Regions from separate parts of the Homo sapiens genome. Here regions 1, 3 and 4 are each reported to be linked to region 2. The links are microRNA targets in miRTarBase. Many come from high-throughput screens and were not tested one by one. Region 2 holds a microRNA gene; each other region holds the end of a gene's coding sequence.

What was found. Region 2 holds the annotated microRNA hsa-miR-4421 (ACCUGUCUGUGGAAAGGAGCUA, at 2,104-2,125, opposite strand). A microRNA usually pairs through its seed, bases 2 to 8, with sites in the 3' UTR of a target mRNA and lowers its output. Matches are read on the target gene's strand: a 7mer-m8 pairs with bases 2 to 8, a 7mer-A1 pairs with bases 2 to 7 and ends in A, and an 8mer does both.
Region 1: miRTarBase lists PTPN3 as a target of hsa-miR-4421. Seed matches in the 3' UTR shown: 7mer-A1 at 1,594-1,600, 7mer-m8 at 907-913 and 8mer at 697-704.
Region 3: miRTarBase lists ARHGAP18 as a target of hsa-miR-4421. Seed matches in the 3' UTR shown: 7mer-m8 at 2,345-2,351.
Region 4: miRTarBase lists MAP4 as a target of hsa-miR-4421. Seed matches in the 3' UTR shown: 7mer-A1 at 2,218-2,224.

What each region holds. Positions count from the first base shown.
Region 1 is chr9:109,376,690-109,379,799 of GRCh38, forward strand. PTPN3 (protein tyrosine phosphatase non-receptor type 3) reads right to left here. Exons shown (of 26, transcript NM_002829.4): 26 at 1-2,944. The coding sequence ends at 2,867. Among named protein-coding and RNA genes, the nearest start is that of EPB41L4B, 57 kb to the left of the region's middle.
Region 2 is chr1:51,058,894-51,062,003 of GRCh38, reverse strand. It overlaps MIR4421 (microRNA 4421), which reads right to left and starts at 2,167; the gene lies at 2,099-2,167. It overlaps MIR6500 (microRNA 6500), which reads right to left and starts at 1,986; the gene lies at 1,901-1,986.
Region 3 is chr6:129,575,694-129,578,803 of GRCh38, reverse strand. ARHGAP18 (Rho GTPase activating protein 18) reads left to right here. Exons shown (of 15, transcript NM_033515.3): 15 at 200-2,672. The coding sequence ends at 291. Among named protein-coding and RNA genes, the nearest start is that of ARHGAP18, 130 kb to the left of the region's middle.
Region 4 is chr3:47,850,225-47,853,332 of GRCh38, forward strand. It overlaps MAP4 (microtubule associated protein 4), which reads right to left. Exons shown (of 21, transcript NM_001385682.1): 20 at 2,939-3,108; 21 at 471-2,714. The coding sequence ends at 2,710. Among named protein-coding and RNA genes, the nearest start is that of MIR1226, 2.2 kb to the left of the region's middle. RefSeq lists an enhancer at 2,035-2,552.

The sequences.
Region 1 (3,110 bases), not on the chromosome of region 2:
ATCCTGATTCTGATGTAGTTCTTCACTTAGGACTAAAAAAAGGCTTAAGTATAATTGCTTAAGTGTATAAGGTGGTGAAACAGGAATCTTGAGCTACGGATTTTAAGTGGTAATAGCTACAGGATTTACTTGAATTGTTTGCTCTTTTAGGTAATTCTCTTGTCTTGTTCTTCCCAGTATTTCCTGGATTTGTTCCTGGCAACCTCGCTGGGTCTGAACTGCTGGCCTGCCCAGTGGCAGAAGACTGCTTGCAACCTTTGGTAGGCTTTTTAGAAATTTATGTGACCGTAATGGCTGCATTTCTGCAACCATAATAAACAATTTGTTTTTGGAAAAAAGCAGTAAAACACCCATCTCCAAAGACATTTAGACTACTTTGCAAGCATTTTGCACACAGGGTGATGATGCATTTTTACCAAACAGTAATAACTTGCTAAATATCCTAATGGCATTTAAATTTTTGCCAGCGTTCCCTCCATCCCCCTTTCTTGGAGCTTGCTGAATTTTTGTGAGTCCAGATTATTTTGTGCTCTTGTTCTCTCTCTTCTAGAAGAGCATTTTCTATTTTCCTCTCATAAAAACCCAGTTAGGCTGGGCACAGTGGCTCACGCCTATAATCCCAACAGTTTTGGAGGCTGAGGTGGGAAGATCACTTGAGGCCAGGAGTTTGAGACCAGCCTAGGCAACACATCAAGATCCTGTCTCTACACACACACACACACACACACACACACACACACACACACACACACACACACACACACACACAAGCCAGGTGAGGTGGCATGTGCCTATAGTCCCGGCTACTCAGGAGGCTGAGGTGCGAGGATTGCTTGAGCCCAGGAATTTGAGGCTGCAGTGAACAATGATCATGCCACTGTACTCCAGCCTGGGCGACAGTGAGACCCTGTCTCTAAAAAGAGAGACAAAAATCCAGTGGATTCTATTTTTGACTGATGTGTTTTTGGGCTAATCACTGATAACTAAACTTTTCTAAGTAACTCACCCACAGCAGTGTCTGTTGCTGTTCTAGCCGATAAAAAGTCACATGAATAGCGTGATCTTATTCAATCCTCATGTTCCAACTAAAGTCCTAAGTATTGTTTCTATTTTACAGATAATGAAAGAGAGGTAGAGCTTCTAAGCAACCAGGCCCGCAAGTAGTTAGTGCTGAGTGGGCGTAGGAACTGAATCCCCTGCCCCTTAGCTGCAAACTTTCTGGTGGTTTCTTGTTTTCAATATGGGGTTATGGTACTGTGTGACATCTCCCTCCCACCTCTGCCATTTAGCAGTAAAATATCCATGTGGAAAAGAAACAAAGTATGCAAGTAAATATGCTAGCTCTAGAGATAAAGAATCTCCCATATAGGTCTTCATCCGTCTTGCTACCAGCAAACTATTCAATTGGCACCGAATTTGCTGAATATCAAAATGGCTTCATTTATGTGCATTATAATATGAAAACATCTTTTCTATAAATACCATTAAGAACCTGGCTTTACTTCCTCTTCTGAGTACATAAAAACCGCTGTTCAAAAATACCACATTAAATGTTTACACAATTTATTTTCCTTAAATAATAATTTGCTACAATCCTGTCACAAATTTAAAAAAATTTAACACGGTATTCACAAAGGCAGAATTCTTTAGGACAATCAAAATGATGGTGTTCTTAGAATAAATTAACATCAGATTGTGTTTATATTCAGATAGTCTGATCCTCTCCTTTGAAATGCAATGGAGACCATTGTGACTGGGGGTGAATGCACACATTTGTTCTTCCATACAGAGACTCATTCTTTATATATACTCAACGGTAATTTGAATCGTTAGGAATCCTGAGAAACACTCACCCCTGGGCACACACATGTACACAGCCCCACGGCCAACCCTCCAGAAGCTGGGTTTCCCATGGTTCAATTACTAGAAGCTCTTTTCTCAGAAGGCCAAACATTCGGAATATTTAGATGACACTGTCCCATCTCCCCTTGGGAAAATCATAAGGTTTCAAGTGGAGGAGCTTGAAGTAGCAGCAATACATGTAGGAGATTCAGTAGTCGGTGATTCCAGTCCTGGGTGCTGAGTGTGCAGTAGGAGGCAAGCAGAGGCAAGAGACACACCTGCTTCTACAACTAAGCCACAAGATGACCAGAACACACTGAGAGTACCAGTTCTCAGAGCCTCAGCTGAAAATTCACCTGAATGCACATTACTAATCCAGGTTAGGCACCAAGAGGGAACCTGAAGAGGGACACAATTCTCAGAAACATGAATATTGGAAGTCGCTGGGAGATGGGACAAAGGGAGGGAGGGCAGAGAGGTGTTGCTCAGCCTTCAGCCTGACCCCCAGTGCCCTGCCATCTAGTACATACGTCAGGGTTTCCTTAGCATCAGGGCGGGTGAATCTGAATTGTTCCAGCTCCACCTAGAAGCACAGAAAGCTCAGCCCTTACAGTCTGACACACAGAAACAAACAAAACATCCAAATGACCCAAGATAACCACACCATCTTGTTGCTGGGAGGACAACAGCTCTGTGGGTGTCCGGTCTCAATTGCTCCAGGATGCCGACAGGGGTGTGTGTGGTGATGTTAGGGAAGAAGGCATTAGGACAGGCCCCAAACTGAGATCCTTTTTGTATCTTTCCATAGAAATACAGGCCTAAATGATGCCATAATTGCATGCTTATCTACACCAGTTCCTATGTACACGATATCTTTTCTATAGAAGTTTAAAGTGCCTGGGTTCAGAGGTGCCCATTCCTTTCCCACAGCTACTGGTTCCTCTTGCTGCTTCCAGAGAGGTCTGTCCTCCTCTTTCAAGGAGGATGCCCTTGGGAAAGAGGAATGAACTTTTTCACAGTTGTCTTAACTAGGATCCAGCATTTGGACTAAACCTTCTTCATACACACGAAGAATCGCTTCACACACAAACTTGTACTGGCTCTGGAAAAGAAAAAAATGCTGTCAAGTCCTGTAGCTCCAGGAAATGCTGCCTACCACACCCTGTACCGGTGGGTCTTTTGCAGCATTTGTAAATATTCCCTGAGCGCCAACTCTGGGCCACAGGCCAGGTACACCTGTGAAGCCCTAGTTCCTATATGATGCGGGG
Region 2 (3,110 bases):
CACCTATACACAACATAACCAACTGGAAAACCAAGGGCACAGAGAGTATATTGAAAGCAGAAAGACAGAAGCAGCTCATCATCTCTGAGGTATTCTTGATAAGATTAACAGCCAAATTCTTTCCAGTAACTTTATGAATATAAACTATTGTTATGAATATAGACTATCAGAATGATTCCAGCTCCATATAAAAATATTTATGGACCATGACAAAGTGGAATTTATTCCATGAATACAGGCTCAGCATACATTATCATATATCATATTAATAGAATAATGGACAAAAGCCAAACAGTCATGTCATAGATATGAAAAAGCACTTGAGAAAATTCAACACACTTTAATGATTAAAAAAACAAACAAGAAACCTGGAATAGAAGGAAACTTCCTCAGCCTGATAAAGGGCATCTATGAAAACACACTGCTAATGTCACTTTGTGGTGAAAGGCTTGAAAAAATTATCCCATCTTAGTCTGTGTTACTATTAATATAAAGGCATACCTGAGGCTGGGTAATTCATGAAGAAAAGAGGTTCATTTGTCTCACGGTTCTGCAGGCTGCACAAGAATCATGGCATTGGCATCTGCTTCTAGTGAAGGCTCCAGGCTGATTCCACTTATGGCAGAAAGTGAAGAGGAGCTGGTATATGCATATCATATGGTGAGAGAGGAAGCAAGAGAGAGACTAGAGGAGGTACCAGGCTTTTTTCAACAACCAGTTCTTGTGGGAACTAAAAGTAAGAACTCACTCTCGTGAGAATGGTACAGAGCTATTCATGAAGGATCCACCCCCACAACCCAAACACTCCTACCAGGCCCCATCTTTAACACTGGGGATCAGATTTCAACATGAGACTTGGCAGGGCCAAACAAATCATATTCAAACCATAGTACCACCTAAGATCAGGAATAAGACAAGGACGTTCACTCTTACCATTTATATTCAGTGTTGTACCAAGGGCTGCATACCCATCAGTCAGAATCCTTGTGTCATGGCATCCTCCAGGTGTCACTTTTCCAGTTGGAAACCTCTGTGGCCAGTGGTGCCTTTGCCAGAGTTTTGCTCAAGCCTGCTGGGCTTGTTCCACCCACTCGGCCTGGCAGGCTGCACTCAGCTCATGCTACTGGCCTGGCTCCCACACCTTCAAAGAATGATCCAGGCATGGAGAGGAGAGGGGTGCACAAGTAAGCAAGCATGGGGTCTGGCTGCTGCACACAGCCAAGCATTGGCTGCTGTGGTGGGGTGGGCAGTTCCAGGTGCCACCACAGGTGCTGGCTCTGTTCAAGCCTGTGGCTGGATCAGATGCACTATAAGTGGCTTCTGCTCTGGGCACTCACATCTGGACAAGGGGAACATGGTGGCACTTGGAAGCTCCAAGACACTAGAAACCACAGAGCCCCAAAGAGGGTGTCACAGCCCTGGCTGGGGGAGCCTGTGCATCTGAGCTCCCTGAAGGGCTGCAGCTCTTCTCTCCTTCTCATTGCCTGCAGTGTGACGAGTGGGGTGGAGGCAGGTGTTTTAGCTCTGTTTGTGTTATAGCACTTTCAGTCCCACCATTCAACAGGTCCTGAATTTTTGTCCTGTGTCCAGGAAGAATGAGGTATGCAGAAAACTGGAGGGTGAGCAAGGCAGAAAGGAACTTTCTTGAGCAAAAGAGTGACAGAACAGCTCTTGGGAGACCTGGAGTTGGTAGCTCCTTTCCACAGGCAGGTCATCCCAACTAGTTCAGCCCTCAGTAGAGAGGAGCCCCAGATTGGGTAGCTCCATTTCACAGGCAGGTCATCCTGACAAGTGTCCAGCTCTCTGGGGAGAGGAGACCTGGAGTGGGTAGCTCCTTTCCATAGGCAGTTAGTCCTGACGAGTGCATCCCTCAGCAGAGAGGAGACCAGAGTGGGCAGCTCCTACCTGCAGGCAGGTCATCCCAACAAGTGTCCAGCTCTCAGAAGAAAGGACACCTGGAGTGGATAGCTCCTTTCTGCAGGCAGGTAGTCCTGACGAGTGCAGCCCTCAGCAGAGAAGAGACCCAGAGAAGGTAGCTCCTAGCTGCAGGCAGGTTGTCCAGATGAGTGTCCAGCTCTCAGGGGAGAGGAAACCCAGAGTAGGTAGCTCCTTTCCACAGACAGGTTGTCCCAACAAGTGTTCAACTCTCAGCAGAAAGGAGACCCAGAGTGAGTAGCTCTTTTCCACAGGCAGGTCATACTGACAAGTAGAGGAGACCTGAAGTGGGTAGCTCCTTCCTGCAGCTGGTAGTCCTGACATCTGTATGAGTCTAGCTAGGTAACATAGTTTTTATGGGCTCAGAAAGGAAGAAGTGTGTTCTGATTGGCCCATGGGTGGCCATGGGCGGGCCTGGAAAAAGCACCATAAGTTCTCACTCCAGGCCGCAGACTCCACCTGGAGCTGACAGCCCAGCCCCCAGGCTTCATGCCATCCATGGCTTGAAGGTTGCGTTTCACTGGGAACCTGCCCCTTTCTGCCCAGGAGCCTGTCTGCCTCCTGTCACCATCAACATGTTGTCCATGCCGCCCAGGCTGTTCATGCTGAGGTTTGCCTACAGGCCCACACTGAGCCACCCTGAGCAACCCCTTGGTCTCCCTCTTGTGCTCTTCAGTTCCCAAAGTCTGGATGGCCTGAGACAGCAGGGGGCTGGCATGTCAGCACTGCCCTGAGTGCTTGGGTACCCAGCTGGGTCACAACAGTGCCTGGGCTCTGCCACAACTTTGCTCTGCCCCAGAGTGGGGGCCAGGAGCAGGGAGAGGCCAGGCAGTGGGAGCAGGCACTTTCAAGCCTACGGGAACAAAGGGCTTCCGGGGCCCCTGAGACCTCAGGGATGCCTGGGTCTGTGGCTACAGCTGAGAAGCTGCAGCTGTGCCTGGGAGCATGTGGCTCCTGCTCCACTGACTTGTTAGGGGGTGGGGCTCCCACCTGTTCCCGGCACCCGTGGGCTCAGCAGAGTGTGCAGCCCCAGTTGTGCTTCCCCTGCTGAAGCCGGCATCTTCACAGTGGCTACTCCAGACAGGCCACTGCTGCCATCACTTGCACCAACCTGTAGGTGACAGTCTTCCTCCATGAAGCCAGTTCATATGCTCTAGAAGTTACTCCTCCATGAA
Region 3 (3,110 bases), not on the chromosome of region 2:
TTTGTAGAGATGGGGTTTCATTATGTTGCCCAGGCTGGCCTCAAACTCCTGATCTCAACCAATCTGCCCACCTCGGCCTCCCAAAGTAGAATAAGTATTTTGAAGTCCAAGACTTAAGAGTTAAATAATTAAGCTTAAGTTTAAAATTGCATACCAATCTACCTGCTGTATTAAACTGACACAACATCTATTTTAACAGGGGAACGCTGCCTTGATGATGACACTTACATGAAGGATTTATATCAGCTTAACCCAAATGCTGAGTGGGTTATAAAGTCAAAGCCATTGTAGAAGACTTAACAAGCTGCAGATAACCATGTGGACTTCTGTCATAATTCTTGCTGAGTCAAGAGTGTAAATAAAAGAAATGGCAGGACTCATATTATTCAGTTGTACCCAAGTATTTAAAAATGACTCTCTTAAGCCTTAAAAAGTCATAGATTTGTGCTGCTGCCAGAATTATATTAATTATTATTAATGTTATTATTAGAAAAAAAATTTCTGGAGTGAGAGTAAAGAGGCTTAATTAGTTTGTGGGCAGTTTTCATATGCTCTGTGAAATGTGTCCAGATGTGACATAGTTTTTTTTTTTAATATGTGGAAATGTCTTCTCTTCCCATTCTTTTCTCCTAAAATCATATATACTGTAATATATGCTCTCTCACCTCTATTACCTCCTCACATCTACCCTTTCCCAGTTAGGTTTGCTTTTTGACCAAAAAGATAACAAATACCAGGTATGGCAAGTTGTGAAGACAGCACATTAAAACATACCTAATTTCACAGTATTCCTGTCACGACAGAATGTTAGTATTCATCTCTTTGAATCATTTGCTCAAATAATAACATTCCACCTTTTCCTGCTGTATCACAGGAAGTGATTTGCATTTTTTTTCAGTTCATCTGACTTATGTTCACAGAACCGTATCAGCGACCAAGAAAATAGGACTGTCAGAAGCTGCCAGTTATTACTGAACCATTAAATACTTATATACTAAGAATAAATAAAATATACCCATGTGAAATAATAATTGGATTATGGATAACAAGAGAGTGAAAGCCAAAGCACTTTCTGTCTACTGTACTCTTCTAAATGGAATTTTAAAAGTCATAGCTGGCTTTACGTGTTGTCATTATTAGCATTATAAATATGCATGATAGTATAATCCAGTAATGGTTGAAGAATGTATTTTACTTAAAGAGGGATTTTTTTTTTTAAGTCCTGAATAAGTCTACTGGAAGAATTATTCTTCTGGGTGAAAAAGCTTTTGTTTGTGTTCTTATTTTAAATAATCGGAGTCAATTTATTAAAATGTTCTTGAAAGTACTATTCCCAGGGATTTTAATGCACAAACCATATTGTGACAAGAGATGAGCCTCTGTACTGTAAATAAGAAATGAAGTAGAGAAATGTTAAATATTTTATGAGTTTAGAATATAGTAAATAAAAGGTGATGTAAATGAATGCTGCACAAACGGTGTTCATGATACTTTTAGTAGTACTTTAGGAAAAACTACACATTCTCAGAAGCTCTTGATGTCTCTAATGAAGGGGGGGAATGCTGTTAATGAGAACAGTCATAAATTTTTAGCATATAATTACAAGAACAGCCTGTGGATATGATCACTTAAATGATTTTGTGGTGATTCGTGCCATTGCTTTTTTATTTAAAAGAAAATTTTGTAATTAAATGCCTTTTTCTAAATTATCTTCTCTTGGAATCATTACTTTTAATCCTATGTGTTTATGAGTATTTTTGCTTTTTTTTTATTAATATTGAGAAATGGACTTTTTTGTTATTAAAAGTCACCTCTATTTTCTATTTTCTTTGTAATTTTTAAAGTAGGAAGATGTCAGAGATGTAAATATGTTTTCGTCTTTAGTTTTTTTCCTTTTACAAATTTTTATTCTTCAGGATTTTCAAAATACAGTTTAGTCTGTTTCTTTGACAATATGTATTAATTTCCCAATTAGCAAAATGGTACTTATTAGTGGGTTGAAAACAATTAATAATATAAAAGAAAAATTAAGTGCTTAAAACATTTTAGGAGTATACAACTTCAAAAAAAAAGATAGCAGTGAGGATAATGATTTAAGTAAAAGGTTGTCTGAAGCATATGCCAACTAAATTTCGCAACGTTTGCTACCTACCTGAAAAGGAGGGTCAGGAGGGAGACACAACATATTTTTGATCATGAAAAAGTATCTTAATTTTAAAAAAGTGAAAATGCCATTTTATTTTGAATCCCTTTTAGAACTCACGACCCAAGTTCATCAATGTTGAATAATATCACGTTTAAATAACAAAAAAATATGGACTTTAAAAAATCTCAAATTTTTTAGAGACAGGGTCTTGCTCTGTTTTCCAGATTGGAGTACAGCAGTGCATTCGCGGCTAACTGCAGCCTCAAGCACTGGGGCTCAAGCAAACCTCCTGCCTCAGCCTCGTGAGTAGCTAGGACCACAGGTGCATGCCACCATGCCTGGCTCTAAAGAGAAAAAAAACTTGATACCATAGAGCCTTGAATATAAATATCCTGATGTTAACCTACTGCTTTTGCTGTGATTTTTTTTCCTTAGTGAGTTTTAAATCTCAGGCTAGATTTTTATTTGTTTTTCTGTGTGTGTATGAGACAAAATAAAAATAAATATATTTGCCTTGAGTTTAAAACATTTGAATTCTTAAAGGAGGACTGGTTGTCCTGGTAACGTTGGTGATGCTCTTTTCTGAAAGAGGCTTCATTAATCTGTTCTCACACTGCTAGGAAGAAATACCTGAGACTGGGTGAGTTATAAAGAGGTTTAATTGACTTACATGGCTGGGGAGGCCTCAGGAAACTTACAGTCATGGCAGAAGGGTAAGCAAACATGTCCTTCACATGGTGCCAGGAAGGAGAAGGATGAGAAGCACAGGGTGAAGCGGGGAAAAGCCCCTCACAAAACCATTAGATCTTGTGAGAACTCACAATCACAAGAACAGCACGGGGAACTGCCCCCATGATTCAGTCACTTCCCACAAGATCCTTCCCCCAACATATGGGGATTACAATTCAGATTACAATTCAAGATAAGATTCGGGTGGAGACACAGAGCCAGACTGTATCAGAGG
Region 4 (3,108 bases), not on the chromosome of region 2:
GGGCCTCCATACACTGGGCCACGGTTCCCCAAAGAGGAAGGAGGAAGGTAGGTAGAGAAGAGAGTGAGATGCTTATTGCTGGGGAACGGGCTGGCTGTGGCCCCAAGTCTTTTAAGAGAGAAGGGGGTTGGAACCTCCTCCCTTCACCAAGAAAGAGCATGAAGCAGCGGTGCTGTTAACCACCCCAGTCCCCTGGCACAGCTGCTGCTCTCGGTACCCACCACAGGAAGCCTGTCAGAACTGTCACTGTCCTTGTAGTTTTGGACAGTAAGTAAGCAAGTAAGTGTCAAGTAGCCCTTTATCAGGCAGACTAGGGGAGAGTTCCACAGGTAGCCAAGGCGCAGGGCTATGTGGCACAGTGGTCCTTCCCGTGTCCACATCCACAAGTTCACAGCTGAGGGGCTGAGCTGAGGGCAGGAAGATCCAGGGAGGTGGTAGATGCAAAACGAGACAGAAGCACGAAGCCTGCGTGATGGGACATCAGGCAGCTTTATTTATTTACTCTTAAAACTGTTACAACAGAATCATGGACTGACACAGGTAATGGCTGAGCCATAAGCAAATCGAGAAGTACAGAAATGTCCCACCCCAAACAGCTGCGGAGTACACATCACACAGGGCCTCTGGTCCCGGCCTTCTCAGGTGCTCTGGAGTGGAGGATCCTTTGAGGGAACTCTGACCACTCCTGTTGTCTACCTAGAGAGCACGCCACTTGGGCCACCTACCCCCAACCTTTGGCCAAAGGAGTGAAAGGACCTGGAACCTGTCGTCAACCTCAGCATCCTCATGACCCCAGGACAGACGCAGTGGAGGCAGCAGGTACTCTGGGCCTGTGCTGTTGCCCCTGAGGTGTCTCCTGACTACGCAACCCTGTTTCCTTCCCACTTTCATCCCAGCAGGCCCTTTCTTCCTGCTGACAAAACACTGGCTCCCTCATGTTCTTGGCACAGCAGAAGTGTTCTGCACATGGTCTCTACGGAGGAAAGCTGGTCCCCCTGGCCCAGGCAGCACTTCCTCCGTGAGCCCCTGCAGTTTCCTGGTGTGTGCTTGGGGAGCTAGGGACATGGTGTCAAACCTCCACAAGGCACTGCTACCTCAGAAAGGGGGAGGACCTGTCAGGCCCAGGACAGCCTCCCTGCACATGGAGATCAAATCTAAACTTAGGTCAAGACCCCTACCTTCTCCAGGGATGCCAGGACCAGAGAAGGGCAGAGGTCAGGAGGGGGCATGAGGAGGCCAAGTCTGGGGCAGCCTCCTCAGAGGCAAATCTACACTGCAGCCAATCCCCCTCCAGAGAAGCCCTTGGAATCTCCCAGGCCATTTCACTACAAACTTATGTTTGAATCCTTTATTAGAAACCATGCAAACTTTAATACAAAAAATACAAGTGCAATAAGAATCTTTGTGTCAATACAGTTCCCGGGATTTCTCCTCACTGCAGCCATCCCAAGGCCTAGCTGGGATGCCCTCTGTGGGCCTTGCCTCTCCTCCCTCCCCTCTCCAGTCAGGGCATAAGGGAAGCAGATAGCCTTAGTCTCATGCCTTTTATTTTTAAATTTCCAGACCTGATTTCCTACTATCTGCATGAGGCTCCCTTGGACATGAGGGCTTACATGTCCTAGGGTGTGGGTGCCGGCCTGAAGGAATTCCATCTCCTGGCCCTTTCTTGTTCTCCAGCCCTGGCTTTTTATCCTAGGGCTGACCACCAGATCCCAGGGAATGGGACAGAGATGCCAAAACCAGCCTCTTGGTTAGAAAAGAAAAGCAGCATACACACAACAAAATGGCAAAACCAACCAGTCCACGCTCCAAGGGCCCCTTGTGTGCCTGACCGGCTCACCAGCCACAGCCTCTGCACCCCTCTTCCCTGCCGCACCGCCTCCAGGGCCCTAAGCTGCCCACATCCTCCAGCGGGGGTGGCATAAGGATATCTCCGCCCTGTTCCCTCTAACACTTACTGAGGACTTTCATGTAGACATGGCTTCAACCTGCAGAACTATTTTGCCAGTTTTTAGGTTATTAGAAAAAAATAAAAGGACAAAACAAGAAAAATGTGACAGCAGCTAGGCGGGTATGTTAAGCATGGGGACAGGCAGCACTGACCCCCAACTTGGGGCAGGGCAGCAAGAAGGGCCCGACACCACCTGCATGGGGAGGGGGGGGCGCCCATTTGTGGGACCAGAGGGAGAGGCAGTGGCTTAAGCTCCACGGTCAGCGTCCTGTCACCACTCGGAATCCACCTCCACTCTTCCCTCCAGGTAGATCCAGGGAGAAGGGAGGGCATGTCAGTTTCTTTTGGGTTTGGACCAAAGAACCAAAAAAAGATGAGGATAGAATCTGGTTCTCCTCTCCTAGATCCCAACTTAGCCTCAACCACCCCAACCCCCTCCCAACCTCCTCCACGGAGCAGTGGCGCAGTGATGGGGCAAGACCAAAGCAGGGAGATGGGCCCAGGCTGGGGAGTGAGAGGAGGTGTGGGGCAGGGCTGCTGCTGCCCCGGGCACGCAAAGCAGGAGGGAAGGCGAGCCTAGCGGGCTGCCCAGCACGGCGCCCAAGCGCTCACTGGTCTAGTGGACAGCCCGGGAAAGGGGGCCAAGGACCCGGGAGCCCGAGTTGGGGCCGCCAGGGAAGTGTGGGGGGCGGGAGACAATGTCGGCCCCGTGGTCGGTGCGGGCCCTGGCATTTGCCCGGAACGTCAGCCTGTAGGTCTCAATCTGCAGTGACATGGGAGGAGGGAAGGGAGAGGGGAACAGGGGAGACAAGAGGGGAACACGGGGGAGACGGAAGACGAGACCAGAATGTCATCATTAGATGCCTGGAAAATAAAAGGTTACTTCATTAAAATTTAGGCCACACTCTAGTCAAAAACAAAGGAGTTTCAATTTGCGGCCAGTGGCAGGGCCCCTGGCTGGCCCTTAGGCCGAGCCCAGCCACTTACTTGTCTCCTGGATCTGGCTGTCCAAGGTCTGGGCCTCCCTTTGGTCACCACCCCCTGACAGGGTGGGGTGGCCATTGAGGCCACTGGCTGAAGTGGGGGCGCCAGCTTCAGGCGCTGCCTCAGAGATGGCCGGCTCCTCCCCAGCAGGGGGACCCGGACACAGAGGAGCC